Linked DNA regions of Homo sapiens. The protein of the gene in region 1 purifies or fractionates together with the protein of each later gene. This does not show direct contact. Each region holds a gene or a part of one and is shown in the gene's direction. Other genes may lie near its edges. The genes, in order: SMC4, USP15, TBC1D4, PPP2R2B, RABL6, PPP4R2 and DCTN4.

What was found.
Region 2: the proteins of SMC4 (region 1) and USP15 fractionate together in Homo sapiens (co-fractionation; one large-scale study listed by BioGRID). This does not show direct contact.
Region 3: the proteins of SMC4 (region 1) and TBC1D4 fractionate together in Homo sapiens (co-fractionation; one large-scale study listed by BioGRID). This does not show direct contact.
Region 4: the proteins of SMC4 (region 1) and PPP2R2B purify together in Homo sapiens (pull-down; one large-scale study listed by IntAct). This does not show direct contact.
Region 5: the proteins of SMC4 (region 1) and RABL6 fractionate together in Homo sapiens (co-fractionation; one large-scale study listed by BioGRID). This does not show direct contact.
Region 6: the proteins of SMC4 (region 1) and PPP4R2 fractionate together in Homo sapiens (co-fractionation; one large-scale study listed by BioGRID). This does not show direct contact.
Region 7: the proteins of SMC4 (region 1) and DCTN4 fractionate together in Homo sapiens (co-fractionation; one large-scale study listed by BioGRID). This does not show direct contact.

Annotation. Positions count from the first base shown.
Region 1 is NC_000003.12:160,430,650-160,433,051, forward strand, and holds part of SMC4 (structural maintenance of chromosomes protein 4), read left to right. Parts: coding exon 1-94; intron 95-382; coding exon 383-556; intron 557-993; coding exon 994-1,176; intron 1,177-1,633; coding exon 1,634-1,866; intron 1,867-2,376; coding exon 2,377-2,402. UniProt on the Homo sapiens protein: Central component of the condensin complex, a complex required for conversion of interphase chromatin into mitotic-like condense chromosomes.
Region 2 is NC_000012.12:62,385,904-62,389,403, forward strand, and holds part of USP15 (ubiquitin carboxyl-terminal hydrolase 15), read left to right. Parts: intron 1-3,500. UniProt on the Homo sapiens protein: Hydrolase that removes conjugated ubiquitin from target proteins and regulates various pathways such as the TGF-beta receptor signaling, NF-kappa-B and RNF41/NRDP1-PRKN pathways.
Region 3 is NC_000013.11:75,297,170-75,300,669, reverse strand, and holds part of TBC1D4 (TBC1 domain family member 4), read left to right. Parts: intron 1-1,095; coding exon 1,096-1,340; intron 1,341-3,500.
Region 4 is NC_000005.10:146,648,258-146,651,757, reverse strand, and holds part of PPP2R2B (serine/threonine-protein phosphatase 2A 55 kDa regulatory subunit B beta isoform), read left to right. Parts: intron 1-1,033; coding exon 1,034-1,211; intron 1,212-3,500. UniProt on the Homo sapiens protein: The B regulatory subunit might modulate substrate selectivity and catalytic activity, and might also direct the localization of the catalytic enzyme to a particular subcellular compartment.
Region 5 is NC_000009.12:136,828,448-136,831,947, forward strand, and holds part of RABL6 (rab-like protein 6), read left to right. Parts: intron 1-46; coding exon 47-99; intron 100-945; coding exon 946-1,037; intron 1,038-2,509; exon of another isoform or gene 2,510-2,576; intron 2,577-3,273; coding exon 3,274-3,414; intron 3,415-3,500. UniProt on the Homo sapiens protein: May enhance cellular proliferation. May reduce growth inhibitory activity of CDKN2A.
Region 6 is NC_000003.12:73,062,811-73,066,254, forward strand, and holds part of PPP4R2 (serine/threonine-protein phosphatase 4 regulatory subunit 2), read left to right. Parts: coding exon of another isoform or gene 1-90; exon of another isoform or gene 91-527; intron 528-862; coding exon 863-937; intron 938-1,192; coding exon 1,193-1,336; intron 1,337-2,041; coding exon 2,042-2,331; intron 2,332-2,586; coding exon 2,587-2,912; 3' UTR 2,913-3,444. Other genes in the region: EBLN2 (endogenous Bornavirus-like nucleoprotein 2), read left to right, coding at 1-90. UniProt on the Homo sapiens protein: Regulatory subunit of serine/threonine-protein phosphatase 4 (PP4). May regulate the activity of PPP4C at centrosomal microtubule organizing centers.
Region 7 is NC_000005.10:150,728,018-150,731,517, reverse strand, and holds part of DCTN4 (dynactin subunit 4), read left to right. Parts: intron 1-28; coding exon 29-102; intron 103-361; coding exon 362-474; intron 475-777; coding exon 778-887; intron 888-3,500. UniProt on the Homo sapiens protein: Part of the dynactin complex that activates the molecular motor dynein for ultra-processive transport along microtubules.

The DNA of each region.
Region 1 (2,402 bases):
AGATACTGAGAAAGAGGTGGATGACCTAACAGCAGAGCTGAAAAGTCTTGAGGACAAAGCAGCAGAGGTCGTAAAGAATACAAATGCTGCAGAGGTATGAGTTGCTTTGTATTGAAGAGGAGATGGGATGATACTGGAACCAATTTAAAGAGCTGGATATATGACAGTGCCTAGAATGTAGTAAGCACTCATAGACTTAAAGTTTTATAACTATCAATTTTTATTTGTACAATAAGAATACTATAATTTGTGAATTTAAATGCTTAAATTATTTTAAAATGGAAGGGGCATGAGGAGAGATTGGTAATTCCTTCATCTCTGTAATGTGAAAATGATGGCTCTATTTGGAAAATTCTATCTAGCAGTTCTTTTCGGTGTTTAGGAATCCTTACCAGAGATCCAGAAAGAACATCGCAATCTGCTTCAAGAATTAAAAGTTATTCAAGAAAATGAACATGCTCTTCAAAAAGATGCACTTAGTATTAAGTTGAAACTTGAACAAATAGATGGTCACATTGCTGAACATAATTCTAAAATAAAATATTGGCACAAAGAGGTGAGATTGTTACCGTTTAGTTTAATTTTAAACATATTCTTTATGAAAAAGGAGGGTTTGGGGAGGATTGTTTTAGGGGGTTGGGGTTCTTAAATTTTGTTTGTGAGCTACATTGTGATTTTTAATTCTGTGATCACTTCTAAGGTTTATAGGGGACATAACAATATAAATTGTTATATACAGAAAAGTCTGAGTAACGATTAGAATTAGACAACTACCCTTTCACCCTAGGGCTGATCTGGACATTTAAGAAAAGATTACATGGACACTTTTGAGTGTTACAACTATTTTTCTTGAAGTCCTTTGAAAAATAATTGATAAATCAGTCACAACTCCTGTTGTTTTCATAGCTGTGTAATTTGTCATATTTTTTTTTAAACAATGAATTGTATGTAATATTATGCCTTCTCTAACTCTCCCCTAAATTGAACTTTTAGATTTCAAAAATATCACTGCATCCTATAGAAGATAATCCTATTGAAGAGATTTCGGTTCTAAGCCCAGAGGATCTTGAAGCGATCAAGAATCCAGATTCTATAACAAATCAAATTGCACTTTTGGAAGCCCGGTGTCATGAAATGAAACCAAACCTCGGTGCCATCGCAGAGTATAAAAAGAAGGTATGAATGAACTGTGTATGTATACTAGTTGGAGTTCTTTTTAGTCCTTAGCCTAAATTCTGATCTTTAGTTTTGTATAATTAACAATGCTGTTGGCCGGGCGTGGTGGCTCACGCCTGTAATCCCAGCACTTTGGGAGGCCAAAGGCGGGTGGATCACAAGGTCAGGAGTTCGAGACCAGCTGGGCCAACATAGTGAAACCTCATCTCTATTAAAGATACAAAAAATTAGCCAGGCGTTGTGGCACGTGCCTGTAATCCCGGGTACTCGGGAGGCTGAGGCAGGAGAATCGCTTGAACCTGGGAGGTGGAGGTTGCCGTGAGCCGAGATCGCGCCATTGCACTCCAGCCTGGGCGTCAGGGCAAGACTACGTCTCAAAACAAAGTAATAATTAACAATGCTAATTATCATATCAAATTTATCTGAATAGATTTTCCCTATCATAATCTTTTCACAGGAAGAATTGTATTTGCAACGGGTAGCAGAATTGGACAAAATTACTTATGAAAGAGACAGTTTTAGACAGGCATATGAAGATCTTCGGAAACAAAGGCTTAATGAATTTATGGCAGGTTTTTATATAATAACAAATAAATTAAAGGAAAATTACCAAATGCTTACTTTGGGAGGGGACGCCGAACTCGAGCTTGTAGACAGCTTGGATCCTTTCTCTGAAGGAATCATGTTCAGGTGTGTAATTATGCTGAGTTTATAATCCCACTGTTACCTTTTTCTACATATTCTCCAAACTCAGTATTTCTTGGAGGTAGGATGTGAAGGCAAGATGTACAACTTGTTTCATTTACTAGTAAATACTAATTTGCTTGCATGCTATTTATGCTTGCAGTTTACAGGGGCAGACAGCCAGTATTTACAAAATATTTGTCTAGTTCATCTTTTCTTAAATTTTCAAGGCATTTTTAACATGAGGATTGAGAAATTGTATTTGATAAGGAGAAAGAATAGCAAGAAGTATAATACTTAGCTTGCTCTTTAAATCTTAAAACTTTGGTATGTGCTCCTATGTATGCATCCTCCAATAACGTTTTTATAAAATAACAGAAAAGAGAATTCATATTTGTGAAAAGCAAGTTACAGATTCCTAAAAAAGATAGTAGAACTCAATTATGGAAAGCAAATCACAAAGTCTTAACTTTAGCTTTACAGGTAATTTGACTATGATTTTCTTAATCATTTCAGTGTTCGACCACCTAAGAAAAGTTGGA
Region 2 (3,500 bases), on another chromosome or scaffold:
TACAGCACATTTGTTAGAGATAATATTCTCCCATGCCAATAATATAAGGTAATCTATATCAATAGTGGCAAATTGCATTAATTTACACATTAGTCCATAAGGTATATGATAAGTGCTCTTCCATAAATTGGGCTCTAAATTATTTTTCCAGCAATGTGAATTTCATTGACTTATCACTTTTCTCATTTGGTGACCAATAATATAAATTTGCGGAGGTTAGAGCCATGGTTAGCACAGAGAAATTCGTTTGTTTTTGTGTTTTGTGTTTTTTTTTTTTCCTTTTTTCCATTTAGAGGCAGTAACAACTCAAATACAAAATGATCACCTCATTTCATTAACACTATGCTTTGACCAGCTTGTAAGAAAAGTGAAATTAGCTGAGTTTCCCTATTTGTTGAGTTTTCCCGTCATTGAAGTTGATTTAGGTCATGGAAGCTTATTAGGAAAAATATTGAATATATATTATATCTTAGGCTCTTATGCTGTGCAAGGTGCTAGAAATATAATGGTGTTTCTAGTCCTTGTTCTTCAAGAAGCTTGTCATACAGTGTGAAAATTGCTCTGACAGGGTGCTGCAAGAGAACACAGAGTAACCTACCCAAACTGGTTATGAGGCCTGTGATAAATTCTGAAGGACAATTAGGTTATAAGCAGGTGAAAACTAGAAATAAAAGCATTATAGGCCAAGATAATGGCATGTACAAAGAACTTATGGGAGAAGAGGACATGGCCCACTTCTGTAATCTACAGTAGTTAATATGGCAAGCAGGAGCTAGATCACGAAGAACTTTGATGCCAGTATAGGAAGTTTGAACTTCATCCTAAAAACTAGGGAAGCCATTAAAGACTATTAAGTATAGATATTATATGGCCACAATTATGTTTCAGAAAGATGATTCTGGGTAGCACAGAGATCAGTTAGAAAAGGCTTAGTACTAAGACCAGGTAAGAAGCTTTTAATGATCAGACGACAGACAAATGACAAACACTTCAACTCTGTCAGGATGGCAGTTTGAAGAACCAGTTGAATGTAGGAAGTGAAAATGTGTAAGTATATTCAAAGATGATGCCAAGTTTACTTGACAGGAAAAGAGGAGACAGCAGTGCTGTTTTAGTGGAATATATAGGAAGAACAAGTTGAAGAAGGAATCCATTTTAGTATTGAACGTGGTGGCCTAACATGACCCAAACCTGTGTTTAGTATTGGATATGCTGACTTACAGATGCATGAGGAACACTTAGGTAGAGATATCCAGTAGGCATTGAATTTGTGTATCTAGACCAAAGGAGAGAGACTGCTTTAGCTATAAATTGGACAATCAGCTCTATGAAAATGATAGTGTTTTAGAAGGATGAGATTACTTAAGGCTAAGGTGACCCCGTGATTTATCATCTAAACAAGAACTCTTGAAAATAGAAGGGACTGTCATTAATAATTATACTAGGATAGCAGGCTAATCCAGGACTGGCCAAAGCAAATCAGGAGACACTGTTGCCTCTTCCAAGGAGAGCATATAAAATTGAGAAGAAGGCTAAAGACAACACTCTAAAGAACAATGTAGGAGAACTTCAAAAGAGGAATATGATCACAGCAATAGAAAAGAATTAAAAGTAGTCGTGTTATAAGGAAAGGGAATTTTTTAAGGAGAAAGTGGTCAGCAGTCATATTACAAAGAGGTCAATAAAATAAAGACTGATAAGTTGTACAACATTATTGGCAACCTTGGAAACAAGTTAAATAAAGAGGCGAAGACAAGCCAGCAAGAGGGTTGAGAAGTAAATGGGAGATAAGGAAGTTATGATAATATAGATATCATTAATAAAGTTATTTATAAAATAGAGGAGAAGGGGAGATAATTAGAGGGAAAGCAATGAGGTACCCTTGTTTTTTGAGAGACTTTATATTCCAATGCTTATGCAAGAGTTGAGATAAAATGGAAGAAAGAATAATTGCTTGGTTTAGGTCCCAGAGAAAGCAGAAGAGCATGGGATTTAGAACATAGACGCTAAGGTTAGCTTTGAATAAGAAGAGAGACATCTTTCTTTCCATGTGTTGCAAGAGACAGAAAAGTACCTATGTGGATTCAAAGAAGTTAGTAGAACAGGAAGTTGGAGATTTTCCCACCCAGTAGTTTCTGTTTTTGAGATGAAATAGGTATTCTGCTGATATTAAGGGAGCAGTAGTGAAATAGGAAGCCTAAAGAATGGTGAAGATTTTTTTTTTTTTTTTTTTTTTTTTGTTAATGAGACAGGGTCTTGCTCTGTCACCCAAGTTGGAGTACATTAGGGTGTGATCTCAGCTCACTGCAACCTCCGCCTCCTGGGCTCAAGGGATTCTCCCGCCTCAGACTCCCAAGTAGCTGGGACTACAGGTGTGCGCCTCCGAGCCCAGCTAATTTTTTGTATTTTTGTAGCAACAGGGTTTTGCCATGTTATCCAGGCTGGTCTCGAACTTTCGGGCTTAAGCGATTCACCTGCCTTGGCCTCCCAAAGTGTTGGGATTACAGGCGTGAGCCACTGGGCCCAGCCCAATGAAGATTTTAAATAGTTATTGAGATAAATGAGAGAATAACCACATGTGTGATATGCAGAATTATTTCTGAGTACTGTCAAAGGATCAATTGATATTGGGCACTGTGGATTTGTAGCACACCAGCCTCTAAAATTGGGAAATTCTCTTCAGCACATGTGAACAGCTCTGAGAAAGTTTAGCAAGAGTGGAATGAATAGAATTGAGTAACAAAGACATTAAAGGTTCGTGATAAAGCATGTAGGGCCTGGATGGAAGGGCTAGAAGACAGTAGGGAGCTGGTAAACTGGGAGAAAACAAGAGTTAAAAGGAATAGAAATCTCTGTGCAAGACAAGAAGAGATAAGAATGAATTTCCAGGAGAAGCAAGAAGTAGTGGTTAGACAGTAACCCGAGTTTAAGATACTAAAAGTGGGGCCGGGTGCAGTGGCTCAGTCCTGTAATCCCAGCATTTTGGGAGACTGAGGCAGAAGGTCACTTGAATCCAGGATTTTGAGACCATTCTGGGCAACATAATGAGACCTTGTCTCTAAAAAATAAAAATTAGCCAGTCATGGTGTCACACGCATGTAGTCCTAGCTACGCAAGAGGCTGAATTCGGAAGATGGCTTGAGCCCGGGAGGTTGAGGCTGCGGTGAGCCAAGATCATGCCACTGCACTCCAGCCTGGGCAACAGAGTGAGTGAGAGCCTGTCTCTAAACAACAAACAAAAAAAGATAGCAAAAGTGGGAGCAGTTTCAAGTAATGACAGGATCTAATAAGTTGACTGAGGTTGAATTAATGCAAGTGTCTTTGAATTGAGGAGCCAAGGAATGATAAAACTAGGACAAATTATCCATGTGGGCATTGTCACACAGGACCCAGGATAGTGGCAAGATTGGAGACAAACACTAATCCAAATGCCAAATGAATGTGAGATAGCAACCATGAGGTCACTCTCATTTACTGAATTTTTTTTCCAAAATAATAAA
Region 3 (3,500 bases), on another chromosome or scaffold:
AAATTTTAAGTGAGAAAGTAAAACCATAATTTTAAAAATTGCTTATTTGGCTCTGCTTGTAGCCATCTGTGTTTCTTCAGCATGCAATTGTTATTTTCTCATATCTTCCTCTTACTGGCTCTGCAGAATTAATCTTATTGGTTCCTAGAAAAAAAAATCACTTTTAAGCATATGTGGGAGAAAACATTTTAAAACCTGGCACTCTTGCAAGTTCTAAATGACATGAGTAATCATTTCACAAGGAAGCTAACATCCCCCTTCATTTTTGTGGCCCTAGAAAAATGCCCATACCAATATAGACAGCTTTGATGTGAAGACGGATTTGTTTCTGTGTATAGAACTCTCCTTTTAGTGATGCAGGACTCACATTGCCAGCTCAAGTGTCTCTGTGGTAATTTTATACCTAGAGGTATATTTTAGAGGGGAATTTATTTGAAATTGACTTGACCCTTTATTTTCCTTGATATTTTTAGATATTGAAAAAGAAAAGTGGTTTACATGGCTCATGGAGGTATTTTAAGAGCAGAGAGCGAACGATAGTTGAAAAAGCAGTTTTCTTCTGAATGACAGTCTGAATGTAAAGTCAAACAAACCCAAAAAGTCCCTCCAGTGTCATAAGAAAAGCAGAAATAAACCTGTTTATAGACTATGAAGATTTTCTTTTAAATAATATAATATGTCTTACAGACTTCTGGTTTCATTTAGAAGGTAGTCTTTATATGAATTAGAATTTGCCTTGCTTTATAGTCAGAATAAAATTTATATTCCATTTTCCTGGTATTTCTCCTGGGTACATCATTGGTTTGTGGATTTTTATTGTATTTTTTTTTTTTTTTTTTTTTTTTTGCTGGAAAGAAGTACTGGTTAGCATAAAATGTTTCCTCCCATATCGTATATGTGAAGATGGTATGGTGGCCTGGCAGAACTTGGGGTGAGAGAGGGAGAGACTCTTAGTTACATGGTGACTCTAAGCAACTCTCACTGGTTTGGGAAAGAGTGTCTGTTTATTCTTGGAGGTCACTGAATTGCAATTTCACTGTTGTCTCCAAGGCATGAGGACATTTCAAAAAATATTTTCCTTCTTTTCCTCTGCAGGAAGGACGTTTCCTACTCACCCTTACTTTTCAGTACAGCTTGGGCCAGGACAGCTGTCACTGTTTAACCTCCTGAAAGCCTATTCTTTGCTGGACAAAGAAGTGGGATACTGTCAGGGGATCAGCTTTGTGGCTGGAGTCCTGCTTCTGCACATGAGTGAAGAGCAAGCCTTTGAAATGCTGAAATTCCTCATGTATGACCTCGGCTTCCGCAAGCAGTACAGACCTGACATGATGTCGCTGCAGGTGAGGCACTTGTGCTTCCCGAGGAAGGTGTGAGACTATTACCAGAAATCCTGGCCCTCTTCTCAATTATTACAGTTCAGATTTAAAGAAATGTAGAGCCATTGTCTTAGAACTTGGGTAAAGATTGGGGCATGTTTTAGTTCACTTAGTGTGGGATTTGCTATTTAGGTAAACTTCTAAGTGTATGAGACCCAGAGGCAGAATACCTTTTCCATAAAATTCCTGAAGTAAGTAAATAAGTAATTTAAGAAAGGTAGGTGATGAGGACCCAGTCCTTTATGCCCTAAGTCTATGGGTTACATGGAGAAGGTATCAAATCATCTTTATTCACTTTTTCTCAACTTCTCAGTTGAAAAGGCTCACAGATCTTTTGTTTACAATCTGAAAGTATCTTTATCCCTTTACTTTTGAGTACACAAATAGCAGATACCATGTTATGGTTCTTTTTGAACTTATCATTGATATCTCCCCTCCTTTATCTTCATGTAAGATAGGCCTTTACAGAGGAAAAAGTGTGAAAGCCAGTGGTGCCTTTTCAGTCTGCTTTGTGTGTGTGTGTGTGTATGTGTGTGTGTGTGTGATGGAATCTTGCTTTGTTGCCCAGGCTGGAGTGCAGTGGCACGATCTCGGCTCACTGCAATCTCTGCCTCCCGGGTTCAAGCCATTCTGCTGCCTCAGCCTCCCCAGTAGCTGGGATTACAGGCAGGTGCCACCATGCCTGGCTAATTTTTTTGTATTTCTAGTAGAGATGGGGTTTCACCATGTTGGCCAGGCTGGTGTTGAACTCCTGACCTCAGGTGATCCGCCCGCCTCAGCCTCCCAGAATGCTGGGATTACAGGCTTGAGCCACTGAGTCTGCTTTTCTTAGCAGGCTCTGAAGAAGCACCATTAAGATTTTCCAGGTATTTTGAGTGGGGTATTAACTGCCACTGCTGTCTTTAGCCTACCTCAGACTCCCTGTTTGCACATTTCTCTCCTAGTTTTCACTTCTCTAAGTGGGTTGGTTGCTAATAAGCAGTTTAAATTTTGTCTATAGATACTTAAACAACCACTGCCTGGCAATTTAAAGCTTTCAGTGGTTAAAAATATAAAAGAAGACTTTAAAGAGGATTCTCAGGTTTTTCCTCCCTTGAAATGAGGTATGCATGACTCCCAGTTCATCATAATACTGTGCTTTAGATAAGAAGTAATAGTTTAAAGATGCTTTTAAAATATACTATTTTTTTCTGTTTCCCAGAGATGAGTTTTTTGCCTTTAATATCTCAGTTGCCAATGTATAACAAAAGAATTGTATTTTTAGTCTGAGCGTTATAGTAAATGATATTTTTTGAGAGTATGAATGGAGATGAAGTATTCCATTTTTCTTTACTTTCTGAAGGTAAAATTTTGACTGGGGAGATAGGGCTTTGCTATCAACATTAGGTTTTCTGGTGTGAGTTCATATGATTTGATTCCTCATTGATGACTATTCGTAGGTTTAACAAGTCAAATAACAACTGTGGAAAGTTTTATTTTTTATTCCTAAAGAGTTTACCTGTATCTTTTTATCTTTTTATCGTTTTTTTTTTTTTTGGAGACGGAGTCTTGCTCTGTCACCCAGGCAGGAGTGCAGTGGCGCGATCTTGGCTCACTGCAACCTCCACCTCCTGGGTTCAAGTGATTCTCCTGCCTCAGCCTCCCGAGTAGCTGGGATTACAGGCATGCACTACCATACCCTGCTAAATTTTTTGTATTTTTAGTAGAGTTGGGGTTTCACTGTGTTGGGCAGGCTGGTCTCAAACTTCCGGACCTCAGGTGATCCACCTGCCTTGACCTCCCAAAGTGCTGGGATTACAGGCGTGACCCACTGTGCCTGGTCACCTGTATCTTAATATCAGATAGGAATCAGATGGTCTTGTAAGGAATTCAATAATTCTGATTTTCAGAAACAACGGTTTGGTAGCTATTATTAGAATTTCAAAGATACAGGGAAGTACCTGTGAGTAGTGTTTGATCTGGGTCCACAGATAAAAGGATAATAGCTATCAGTTTAAAAATACAATGATATTTCAACTTAAAAATTATTCATCAATTTGACATTACAAAAATTCATGTAAATCGGATTTATACATTCATTTAATATGGACTGTAAGTACCAAGAAGTATTTTATGTCTATAATT
Region 4 (3,500 bases), on another chromosome or scaffold:
TCAGTCGGGGCTCAGTTGCAAGAAATGATTTGCTTGAAAAGAAAATAGCTTTGGTTATTTTATTATCTTGTTTCTATTAAGTGACCACACCTGTGTTGTGGGGTTTTGTCTGTCTTGGGTGTTTTTTTAGTTTGTTCCCTCTCAGGCATTAGTGTTCTTATTCTCTTTCTTTGTAGCCAGTTCACCCAGAACTCAAAGGAGGAAGAGTGATAGGTCTTTGTTCACATTTGCCAGAAAGACGGTCATGTGTGGGAAACTATTTAGTTGCCGATTCTCTGATCCACCAGAAAGAAATCATTTAATCATGTATTCTTACTCATTCAACAAATACTTACTGAGAAGTATTTATGTATCAGTAAGGTGACCATATCATTAATGTTCAAACTGGGACAGTTTTGCATGTAAAAGTGGACACTACCTGGTTCGCACTCTAAGACAAATATAAACCAAGATTTTCTCAGTCAGATGTCATTGGGTTCCCTATATATTAGTGGCTGAATTTGGACGATTAGAGTCTTGGGTGATGCTAAAGTTTCCCAAAATGCCCTTAAGGATTAAGGACAAAGCCAGGAAGGGGTATAGCTTCCAAAGCCATGAGATGAAAAGACATAAAAGATAAATTTAGATTAAAGTTGAACTAGACATTTCTAAAATTTTCCCACAACTCCCTTTTTTAAATAGATTTCATGTTTAAAAAAAAAATAGAACAATGTCTCTGGAAGGTAATGACTCCACAATGGAAGCCAAGTTCCCCTGAGATGAGGCTACCTGGAGGGGCTTAGAAAAATGTTTAGAATTTATAAAGAATGAAATTTCCCACCAGGGCTAAGTGATGGTGATATCTTTTGAAAGAGGAGGAACAGAATGGAACAAGAACAGTGTGTGATTCGTTATTAGCCTCTTCTTTCTCTAACTTGGAGTTTCTTCAATGTGGCTATTATTTTGTGTGTGATAATAAATGATATTAGCATGCACACTCTTTTCCTATGGAAGATCTTTGGTTCTGAAGTGATTTGTTTCTCTTGCATCCCAGGTGCCTGTCCTGAGACCCATGGACCTGATGGTGGAGGCCACCCCACGAAGAGTATTTGCCAACGCACACACATATCACATCAACTCCATATCTGTCAACAGCGACTATGAAACCTACATGTCCGCTGATGACCTGAGGATTAACCTATGGAACTTTGAAATAACCAATCAAAGTTTTAGTATCCTTTCTTTGTGATCAAGAATCAACTGGCCTGAATTAAGAGTATTCAGGTGCGAGTGGGCTGGGAGAAAATATGGAATAGAAATGCAACACCTAGCATTTGCGGAGAACTTGCCCCTTTTAAAATACACTGGCACCTATGAGACTCTTTAATCATAACAATAAAGTTAGGGAAATATTGTTATTACAAGTGGGAGGCCAGGGCTAGCTCTGGATTGGGACTCTGAATCAATTCCTTCATACAGAGGCATTTATATGTCACGAATTAAAATTAGAGGTGATTTTATCAACAATAGGATAAGACCCTAGAGTTCAGGTTCTTTCTCTGTTAAAGGATTCATAAATCTGTATGGACAGCATGGACCACAGACATACTGGTTTCCATTGTCTCATAATAGTGAAAATAATAGTGACTGACATTTATTGAGTTCCAAGCACTTGCAATGGGAACTTTATAGTATTACATTTTTTACCTCATTGAAGTATATTATGCATATAGAAAAGTACATATTATAATTGTACAGTTTGATGAAATGTATAGTATACATATTATAATTGTACAGTTTGATAAAATGTACAGTATACATATTATAATTATACAGTTTGATGAAATTTCAGAGGTTGAACTCACCTATAACCAGCATTGACATCCAGAAACAGAACTTTGCTAACAATTCTCAAGCCCCCATCATGCCTCTTTATATTAATAATTTCTACCCCCAAGGACATATTTGATAAAACAACCCCATAATGTAAGTATCATTATCTCCTGTTTAATTAAAATATAGAAAAGTCGGCTGGCCGCAGTGGCTTATGCTTATAATCCCAGCACTTTGGGAGGCCTAGGTAGGTGGATTGCTTCAGGTCAGAGGTTTAAGACCAGCTTAGCCAACGTGGCAAGGCCCCAACTTTACTAAAAATACAAAAAAGAAATTAGCCAGGCATGGTGGCGGGCGCCTGTAGTCCCAGTTACTTGGGAGGCTGAGGCAGGAGAATCGCTTGAACTGAGGAGGCAGAGGTTGCAGTAAGCCGAGATCGTACCACTGCACTCCAGTCTGGGTGACAGAGCCAGACTCCATCTCAAAAAAATAATAAAAATAAAAAATATATAGAAAGGTAAAAAAAAAAAATGCTGAATAGCTGGGCCAGTATTTTCACCCCCACTATGTTGACCCTCTATTTCATAGTAAAAATTGGTCATTTATTGAATACCTATCATGTGCTCCATTTCTCACAAACCTAAGGCATGAGATTTATGAGGAATGGCACTGAACAACTCAGGTAACTGAACAATTGACCTAGGTATCAATATGGAGTTTTCTCTTCCACTTACCAGCCTCCCCTACTCTAACTCCATCTATCCATGAGCCCTGCCTCTAAAATATATGTCAAATCAACGCATATATCCCTATCTACCTACCTACACTAGCATAAGCCACTGTTGTCTCTCACCACTGTGACTGCAATAATCTCATCTGGTCTCCATTCATTCTTGCTCTTTTATACAGTACGAACCCTTCAACATGTAATTCAAATATCATTCCTTCCCTGATAAAAAACATTCCAGTAGCTTCCCACTAAACTCAGAATAAAATCCAAGTTATTTAACTTGGCCTATAAGATTCTGCGTGATCTGGAACCTGTCTCCATCTTTGTTATCCAGTCTTGTCACGCTTCCCTAATTCACTTCATTTCAGCCAACTAATCACTTTTCTGTTCCTAAGTAAACCTTATTCTTCCATTCTTTGCATTTGCTGTTCCCTCTTTCTAGAATATTTTGCCCACAGCATTCACATGGCTAGTTACATGTCACTTCAGGCCCCAGAGGTACTCTTTCCCATTAACTCTTAAGTAGCTACCAATAACACTATCCCTGTTATTGTCATGGTACTTACCATGATTTGAAATTTTTTTACTTATGTATTTTTGGTTTCCTCATGTTAGGATGTAAATTCTACAAGAGCAAGGGCCTTGTATGAACTATTGCTGTATTCCAGTACGTGGAACACTCTGACATACAGAAAATTATTGAACCTGTCAAGTTCGAAATAATAGTAGGTCATCAAAGTAGCGCTATCCAGTAGACAGTTCATAAAATCTAACCTGGAAATTTAATTTTAAGAGTTATAGTAAAGCTCTGAAGGTTCGTTTATAGAATAGACCCCATAATGGCTCAAACAAATAAAAGATTATTTTCGTATGAAGTCTAATATTGATGATCCCCATCAGCAGGCAGCCTCCTCCAATCAGTAATTCAGAAACTCGGGCCTCTTTCATTTGCAGCTCC
Region 5 (3,500 bases), on another chromosome or scaffold:
AGGCCCAGGGGTTCCACCTCGTAATTTTTGTTTGTTTTTAAATAAGGAAAATGCAAAAAGCGAGGCGACGGCTTAAAGATGGAGAACGACCCCCAGGAGGTGAGTGCCAGGTACACAGTGGGTAGCAGTGGCTCAGGGCCCCGGGGTGCGTGAGCCGGTGCCCAGCGCTTCACACGCTTTTGACCCCAACCACCCCAGTTATGCTGTGGCCACGGGGGCCGCTGGCCTTCCCAACTGCTCTGAAAACCCCACACTGCCATGGCTGTATCTGGGGGTGGCCGGCTCACCTGCACTCGACAGACATCACGTTGGACTGACCCCTATTTGCATTTGAGTGACCTGAGAGGTATTTAAGTGAACTCGCCAAACTTTTATCCCAGTCTCGGTGGGCTCGGCCCTTCAAAGCACAGGACACATCTCGCAGCGCCATGGGCGTGAGTTTCGCTCACCGGAGCCACCTGGGGCCAACCCAACCTGAGCCCGACACACCCAGGGCCTCGCACTCTCCGTGCGGTGCCTCCCACTCCCTTTAGAGCATGGGGTGGAGTGACTCTGCCCACAGCACTGCAGCTAACCCTGTTTGTGGGCACTGGAACCTTCCGGAACGCACATCTAGCTGAGGGCAGCTGGTAGTCCAGCACCCACTTCTATTTTCGAGTGGTGGTTTGGTTATCCGTGAGGCCTGGGGCGGACACTGCTGTGATCAGTGGGAGGTCCTGGGTAGGAGGCTTGTTCAGGGAGCCATCAGCGAGGCTGGTGTTGACCGTCAGACCCTTTGGGGCAAACCTATGTTTAGCTATCCCATCTCTTCAGCATATCGTTTCCAAATGGAAATGGCTGTTATCTTTTCAGATTAGAAGACTATCCAGCCTTTTCTAAAACTGTGGGCCACACGGGTGGGGCCCAGCCTGGGCCAGTCTCACACCTGTTCCCTCCTGTCCCCAGGCGGAGTCTGAAATGGCCCTGGATGCTGAGTTCCTGGACGTGTACAAGAACTGCAACGGGGTGGTCATGATGTTCGACATTACCAAGCAGTGGTAAGAGGGAGCTGGCGGGGGCAGCTGCCTGTGACTCTCACCCCCCTAGCCCCTTGGGCGCCCTCTTTGTGCAGCAGATAATGGTTAGAGCAGCATCGTTCTGCAGGACCGAGGGACTCTTGCTGGGCAGCTGTGGCAGCTCAGCCACAAGGGGCACTGGCCTGGATGTCGGGCTGGGCAACGACTATGCCTGTGCCTATGGGGCGGGATGGCGTGGGCCGGCTGCAAAAGGCATCTGGGGCAAGGCACGCACCTTCCATAGCCCCACTGTTCTTCCTGAAAACCCATCTGAGACTTGGCGGAAGCAAGTGGCTGCTTGTGCTGGGGGCTCCCCGCGACCTCCGTCTTCATGACCTAGGAGGACCCACAGCCAAGATTCATTCTAGCAAGAAGATGACAGCGAAATCAGCTAAGGGCAGTGGCACACAGGACGATCTCTGGGGGACCAGGCGCAAGCCCCCAGAGTCCACTGTGGAGTCGCATGGGATCCACTCAGCTCCTCAGGAGTGCAGTGTCCCCCAGGACGCACCGGAGCCCCAGCGGGGGGGTGCTGCGGACGCACACTTGGCACAAGGCTCCTAGAAGAACGAGGGCCGCGTGAAGACCAGTGTCCTGGTGCAGGGCCCCTCCTAGCCACAGCCAGTGCCCGGAGCACCAGGAGCAGCATGCCCGACACGTCCAGGCATCTGCTCTTCCCAGCAGTGGGTCTGGCCTGGGGGCCTAGTCAGCAGCTTCTCTTACTTGGGAAGACCCCCACACCAGGGTTAAGCGTACCGCCTGTCACGGGGCCGCACACTCAGCACGCATCAGCAGCCCAGGCCTGAGGGCGGCTTGAAGCACCTGACCAGCCATGCTCTGGGCCTCTGCCAACCTTTGCCAATGCTGGGAACCATGCCTGCCCTCCCAGCCTTCAGCACCACCACCAAGGACTGACCGCAGGCACCCTCAGGAGAGCCCTCGGTGGGGGTGTGGCACACGGATGGCAGGAGAACCACACACGGGGCTGGCGGCCCCACCCCAGGGCACGAGTTCAGCTCGGGCGCACACGCTGGCCTCACCTGGGCGAGCAGTGGTGCTCCTCTCCCTCCGGCCTCTCCTGTCTAGGCAGCAGGCCAGCCTGGTGGGTGGGAAGTGGCTTTTCCCAAGCGAAGTTGAGTGTGGACACAGTGTGGCCTCCACGGCACCTCCCACTGCTGCCACAGGAACGGCCTGGAGGGAGCTGCAGCCGCCTGGGCTGCCGTGCGAGGAGTGGGCGGGAGTGACAGCGAGACTTGAGCCAGCCTGAGAAGACGCGGCAAAGGCGCTTACCTGTGGGCCCGGAGACCCTGTTGGCAGCACCAGCCTGGGCAGGCGATGCCTATGGTAGCAATGCTCTGTCTGGAGCCCCTGGTGCCCAGCAGGAAGGATGGAAAACACTGGCTCAGACAGCGGCTTCAAGCACCACGCAGGCCCTTCACAGCCACGAGAGGCAGGAGACACCAGAAGGCCACCTGCTTAGGAGGCCAGAGGTGCCCCTGGGCCGGCCTTGGTGAGGGGCCCGTTTAAATGACTGCGTGTAAATGAAAGAAAATGAAGTTAGAAACAGGATGTTGCATTTTTTACTCCCTTATGTTGGCTTTCAGTCGTGGGGAAGTTTTGTCACTTGAAGCGCTGGTTATTTCTTCACAAGCCATTTGGAAAACCACGCAGCTGGGAAACTGGCAGTTCCACGCCAGGCAGACTCTGGAGACTTGCCGTCCGTGCCAGGAGATGTCTGCTTAAGACAAGGCTCTCCAAACAGCCCGCTTCACCGGCAGCCGCAGAGGCACCCCAGGGTGTCCTCGGCTGCCCCGGTGGGCAGGGAGCCTGGAGGACCAGCCACAGGGTCGACACCAAGGGGCACAGAGGACAGTGCGGAATGAGGGTGGACACAGATGAAGCCAGAGGTGGTTTTGTAGGGATGCGGACATGGGGTGCTCTGAGGGAAGGCAGGGACAGGCAGGGGCGTTCCAGTGTGGGGTGCGGTCAAGTACCTGCCGTCAGGGAGAGGGACGGGCGGGGGCTGCAGGCTGAGGGGTGCGAAGGCCCTCGAGGCACTTCCCTCTAGCTCTGCATGCACGAGGCATGCTTCTGCTGGGTTGGATGTTGGAAATGAGAAGCAGCCACCATCCTCGGGCCTGGGCGCACAGCACCTTTCCAGGGAGGGACAGGGCGTCGCAGGGCTGAAACTAAGCCAGGTCCTCACCTGTTCTCCGAGGACCTTCAATTACATTCTCCGGGAGCTTCCAAAAGTGCCCACCCACGTGCCAGTGTGCGTGCTGGGAAACTACCGGGACATGGGCGAGCACCGAGTCATCCTGCCGGACGACGTGCGTGACTTCATCGACAACCTGGACAGGTGGGTGCGGTGGCCCTGCTCCCGAGGGACCCTGCCCGGTGCTCCGGTGTGCGGGGGAGGGTGCTGAGGCAGAGGCCCAGGGAGGG
Region 6 (3,444 bases), about 87 Mb from region 1:
AGCTCAAGACCATGGGTTGGAGAATTAATGTTCACACTTCTATTTGGAGACTTTGAATCCCCTCTACACAAGCTACGCAAGTCAAGTTAGTTGCCAAGAAAGCACAGATGACAACCTATTAATGCTGTGAGAATGTTTCTAGATCAGTGCATGGATGGCTCCATTGCTCTACGGGCCATTGTGTCTGAGATCCCAGTCTTTGAGGAGAAAAAAAACAATGGTTAAAAAGGCATTGGGGAAATATTTTGAGTTTGGGGGTGTACTTTGCCACCCCATTATTGGGGAGCTGTCACCACGAATGTTCCCAAACTTAGCAACAGCGGCAAACTACTGGGCCAAGATGAGCAACCCCACATTTTTGGGATTTAAAGCTCCTGATGTTATACCAGGATCAACCATCACACTCCCTTTGCTTCAAATGGCATCTACCCCGTAAGATCTTGAGGGGGGAGTGTTGGGTGGAATCATAGATCCATGCACTCCTAACATGAACTAATTCTCATTATTTAAAAAAAAAAAAAAAAAAAAAAGTCCAGGTGTGGTGGCTTAACGCCTGTAATCCCAGCACTTTGGGAGGCCGAGGTGGGCCGATCACTTGAGGTCATGAGTTTGAGGCTAGCCTGGCCAACATGGCAAAACCCCGTCTCTACTAAAAATAAAAAAAATAGCTGCGCATGGCATCACACGTCTGTCATCCCAGCTACTTGGGAGGCTGAGGCATAAGAATTGCTTGAACCTGGGAAGTGGAGGTTGCAGTGAGCTGAGATTGCACCACTGCACTCCATTCCACCTTGGGTGACAGAGCCAGACTCCATCTAAAAAAAAATTAAGTCATCCACAAGTGTATTTTCTTTTCTTATAGGAAAAACAATTCCAATAGTTTAAATCGAATGAATGGTGTTATGTTTCCTGGAAATTCACCAAGCTATACTGAGAGGTGAGATTCTAGATTTTTAATACCTACAGAGTTTGCATTGTCCTGATTTTGAGTAGCAGGCTTAGTGTACTTTTTAAAAATTGGGCATTTTATGGACACCATAGGATGAACTACATAGAATTAGTTAATTTGGTAAGGCATGGGCCTGAAAACAAAGTTGCAGCAAATACTTCTGTGATGTATTCACATCAACATACCTTAAGAGGGATGACTTTTTATAAAAATAGGAAATGATGTTCATTTATCTTATTATAGGTCTAATATAAATGGGCCTGGGACACCCAGGCCACTTAATCGACCAAAGGTTTCTTTGTCAGCCCCCATGACAACAAATGGGTTGCCTGAGAGCACAGACAGCAAAGAGGCAAATTTGCAGCAAAATGAGGAGAAAAATCACAGGTTTGTATGTTTTATATTTAAAAACAGTGTTTTTATTAAAAGTTAAAGTTAACATTTAATCAGTACTTATCACTTACTATTTATAAGTTCTGAGGGACAGAACAAGGTTTTCATGCGGTTTATAGGAGCACTGGCTTCTCTTTGCAGCTGTAGCAAATGTTGAAGGTGGACATAGACAAGACTTAAAACTGCTAATTTGTGGAGACTGTTTATGTAGGGTCTAAAAGTAACGTAGATATGATGATCCATTTCATTTGTTGTTTCTGAAAGTTACTTGAAAAGAAATGATCTTTATAAATAAGTTGATTTTTGTGAGTCGTTTCTCATTGTAGTTCATAAAAGGACACCTTTTGTTTATATCTTCAAATTTTCTGTATCACATTAAGGGAAGGAAGACTAAATGAGGGAGAGGACTTAAGAGAGTATGTCCGTATGGAAGACTTGCGGGTTTATTGTAGGAGAATATTTAACTTACTGGAGAATTGCACAGAAAGGTCATATAGCTTTTCTGAGTCCTACTGGGAATTATTCATCAAACAGTTTAGTTTACCTTGAAATTATTCTCTTGTGTTTTTCTTTGTTCAGGTGTTATAATTTAACTTTGACACTGAAATACAATTTAAAACATTATTTAACCTTAAAAATGGGGATGTAGAAGATGGGGAAAATAATCTTATTAATGACACTTTAAAAAAACATTTACAGTGACTCTTCGACCTCTGAATCAGAAGTTTCCTCAGTGAGCCCTTTGAAAAATAAACATCCAGATGAAGATGCTGTGGAAGCTGAGGGGCATGAGGTAAAAAGACTCAGGTTTGACAAAGAAGGTGAAGTCAGAGAAACAGCCAGTCAAACGACTTCCAGCGAAATTTCTTCAGTTATGGTAGGAGAAACAGAAGCATCATCTTCATCTCAGGATAAAGACAAAGATAGCCGTTGTACCCGGCAGCACTGTACAGAAGAGGATGAAGAAGAGGATGAAGAGGAAGAAGAAGGTATTTAGAGACCATCTGTAAAAGGGTGGAGTAAGGAGATCCTCAAATTCTTGTACTTCATTTTTTTCGTGAAAGAATTTTACGTAATGGAACTCCTTATAATGCTGATGTTGGGCTTTTCTCCCACCTGTATGTAGTTGCTGCTGAATTTCAGGGGATGTGATTTGAACTATAGAATATCAGAATTCATGAAACTTAACTGTGGAGGTATTTTGAAAATACAATTTAACTACAACAACATTTGCTTATTTTTAGAGTCTTTTATGACATCAAGAGAAATGATCCCAGAAAGAAAAAATCAAGAAAAAGAATCTGATGATGCCTTAACTGTGAATGAAGAGACTTCTGAGGAAAATAATCAAATGGAGGAATCTGATGTGTCTCAAGCTGAGAAAGATTTGCTACATTCTGAAGGTAGTGAAAACGAAGGCCCTGTAAGTAGTAGTTCTTCTGACTGCCGTGAAACAGAAGAATTAGTAGGATCCAATTCCAGTAAAACTGGAGAGATTCTTTCAGAATCATCCATGGAAAATGATGACGAAGCCACAGAAGTCACCGATGAACCAATGGAACAAGACTAACTATTTAGAAACATTTAGATGCAGTATTTTACATACAGTTCTGGTTTTAACACTGTATAAAACTTTTGTGTAATAAAATGGACCTTTAGTTTTACAAGAGAAGCAGGTTGTAAAATAAAGTACTTTATGGATAATTCCTGAAAGAGTTGTACATGTAAGAACTGTGAATATCAGCTCCTCTGGGTCCTGCTTACCTTACCGCTGACTTTTCTTTCTTTCTTTTTTTGGTCTGGGCAAATCAGTGGTTTGTGTATAGATTTTTTTTTTTTTTTAATTTAGGATTGAAGTTTTTAAACTGGAAAGTAATTACAATTTTGAAAAGTTTTTTGAGATTATCACATTTAGTTTATACATATGCAAGAAGCTTTTTGTCTTGTCTCTTTCTGATAGCTCTAGCAGTTTTCATATTTTGGTCATAGTTTCAACATTTTAACATGTGAATTATAGGGTTTCATGCTGGTTTCCAGATTTTATTGTTTGGCTACGTACAATGGAACTTTAAGTCATATATACATACATATATATATATATA
Region 7 (3,500 bases), on another chromosome or scaffold:
CTAATAGGAATTTCTGAACTTTGTTTAGGACAAATATGGTCTTGGAACCAGGCTTCAGCGACCACGAGCTGGTGCATCCATCAGTACCCTTGCCGGACTTTCGTAAGTTTAGACATGAAATGACTTTGAGGAGAACAGCAGGTATCAAAATGAATATCAAATAAATGAGATTAAAACACACACACACACACAGTTGTCAATGGAAAAGAAGATTCTCATACTTAGAAAAGACCTACGCTATACAGATATTCTATGACAGAGGAATACTTCAATTATTGATATCATAGACTGAGGATAATCAGGTGGATCCGTGAGAAATTACTCTTTTGTTTTGTTTTGTTTTGTTTTTTTAATTTTTCAGCCTTAAAGAAGGAGAGGATCAGAAAGAGATAAAGATTGAGCCAGCTCAGGCTGTGGATGAAGTGGAACCTCTACCTGAAGACTATTATACAAGACCAGTAAATTTAACAGAGGGTAATTTTCTGTGTTTTTCTACTTTGTTTCTAGTCTACATCTAATTCTGTTTTTGTTATTTATGTACCTAGTGATTTGAGATTTTTAATGGAATAGCTGTTAGTAGTAAAAACAATATGTAGAAAATAAAACAGCTGTAATAGAGGTAATTGTTTGAAATCTAAAATGTCAACTTTCTATATTTTCATTTTTATGAACAACACTGTTCGTAAAGGCAGTAATGCTTCGTGTAATTACTGGTACATAAAAGTCTGATTTTGAAAGTCACTGTAAACTAAGCCTGTTTTCTGCCTTTCTTTCTAGTAACAACCCTTCAGCAGCGTCTGTTACAGCCTGACTTCCAGCCAGTCTGTGCTTCACAGCTCTATCCTCGCCACAAACATCTTCTGATCAAACGGTCCCTGCGCTGCCGTGTAAGTATTCCATTCTGTAGACTGACCATTTGTACAAGAGGAAAGCAAAAATAAATGTGGCTGGTGTCTGACTAATGTCAAAACCTTTGGAATGTATTAAATACAGAAAATACTTGTAGAGAACATACTAATTGCCAGGCACTATTTTAAATGCTTTCAATATAAACAGCTCTTACAACTCTGTGAGGTAGGTACTACTGTTAAACCTGTTTTACAAATGTAGAAAATGAAGTATCTGAAGGTTAAGTACATAGGGTTAACCCCTAAAAGAATAGTGAAAGAGTGTGAACTTTTAGGCTAGTGTTCAGGCTCAGGGAGGACCAATAAAAAATAATCAATTTAAAAGAAAGCAAGAAAAATCAGCAAAATCCAGGCTCTGGTAATCTACAGAACAAATGACAGAGTTTCTTCAATAAATAAATTGTAAAAACAAAATGGAAAAGAAACCTTTTAGAGGAGTACTATCCAACAGAACTTTCTATGGTGATGGAAGTATTCTGTGTCTGTACAGTCCCGCATGATAGCCACTAGGCACATGTGGCTCTTGAGCACATGAAATGTGATAGTGCAGCTGAGGTACTGAGTCAGTCTTTAATTTCATTTAAATAACCACATGTCGCTAGTGGCTAATGTTACTTAATCATTCTCTAGATTAGAAGAGACTTAAAAGTTTACCAAACACAATGTATAGAGTTTACGTAGATTCGGATTCAAACAAAACAGAAAGAAAGGGCCCAGGGGAGGAGGGAAGAAGGGAAAGAGGAAAGAAGGAAAGAAAAATTTGTGAAATCTTTGAGAAAATTTAAACACTGGTAGCATTTTCGATGCTATTAAAAAACTATTGGGCAGGGCACAGTGACATGCACTTGTAGTCCCAGCTACTCTGGAAGCTGAGGCAGGAGAATCCCTTGAGCCTGAGGAGTTTGAGACTGTAGTGTGTGATGATGGTGCCTGTGAATAGCCACTGCACTCCAGCCTAGGCAACACAGAAAGACCCTGTCTCTTAAAAAAAAAAAAAAAGTATTTTTTCTTTTTTAGGAATAATGATAGTACTTTGTTTGTTTGTTTTTTAATGTCTTTATCTTTTGGAGATACATACAGAAATATTTATGGAGGAAATGACTTGGTCTCTGATATTTGTTGCAAAATAATGAGGGATGAGGAATGGGTAAGAGTATAAATGAAACAAGATTGGCCATTGTTGCTAATTTTTGATAACAAGATGCTGATTCTTTTTGTTTGTTTAACCTGAGAGCATAGATTCAAGTCCTGCATATATATTCCGAAGTTGATAATCGTTGAAGTTGGGTGATGGGTACCTAGAGATTTGTAATACCATTCTATATTTTTGTACACGTTAGAAAATTTCTATAATGAAAAACCTTTATAAAAAGAAAGAAAAAGAAGGGGCAAAGGAACATTGAATTGGTAGTTCAAATAGAAAGCCTGGGCTCATGCCTGTAATCACAACACTTTGAGAGGCCAAGGCAGGAAGATCACTTGAGCCCAGGAGTTTGAGATCAGCCTAGGCAACATAGTGAGACCCTGTCTCTACCAAAAAAAAAAAAAAAAAAAAAAAAAAAAAAAAGCCAGTGTGGTGGTTCACACACTTGTAGTCCCAGCAAGTCAGGAGGCTGAGGCAGGAGAATTGCTTGAGCCCAGGAAGTTGAGGCTGCTGTGAGCAGTAATCACACCACTGCACTCCAGCCTGGGTGACGAAGCAAGACCCTGTCTGTTAAAAAAAAAAAAAAGATTGTGTGTGGTAAGATAGTAGATTAAAATCCAGATGTATCAGTATTTACATTAAATACCAATGAACTAAATGCTTCCATTAAAAGACAAACATTGTCAGTCTAAATAATAAAGCAAATTGCAGTGATCCATCTATATGCTTATTACAAGAAGCACAAACATGAGAACTCAGAAAAGTTGAAAGTAGAGAGAAGTGGGAAAAATATTGGACAAACACTAATTTTTTTAAAAGAGGGATAATTTGTTTAAAAAAAAGATTCAATTTACAAAGAAGATATAACCGTCTAAAGTCATGTGCACTGAATAATAGACTCAAAATATATAAAGCGACATTTGAGAAAATTACATAAATGGACAAATCATTTTGGGAAATTTTGACATACTTCTCTCAGTAACCGAGAGAACAAATAGATGAAAATCAGTAAGAATATAGAACATTTGGACAATTTATCTAGCAAACTTGACCAAATGGGCATATATAGACTACTGTACCCAATGTCTGCAGAATATATGCATTCTTTTCAAGTACACACAGAACACTTATAAAGGTTGATTATATACTGGATTATTATAAAGTAAGTCTGAACATTTTTCAGAAGATGAAATTCTTTTTCAGTTAAAAGAAAGTTTTTATTAACAAGAAAAGATTTAAGTCACATTTATACTTTATAATAATAAATAGGCTAAGATGCTCAATAACACAAGACTTTCTCTTTTGAACACTTTATTTCCATTTAGTACTCTTAAATACATTTGCTTGTTGTGTGTTTATATTTTAATAGGTAAAAGTTATGAATTACCAGCTATTTTGCTACCTAACTGCACGGGAAAATGAAAATTTATAGAATTTTATCATTAGAT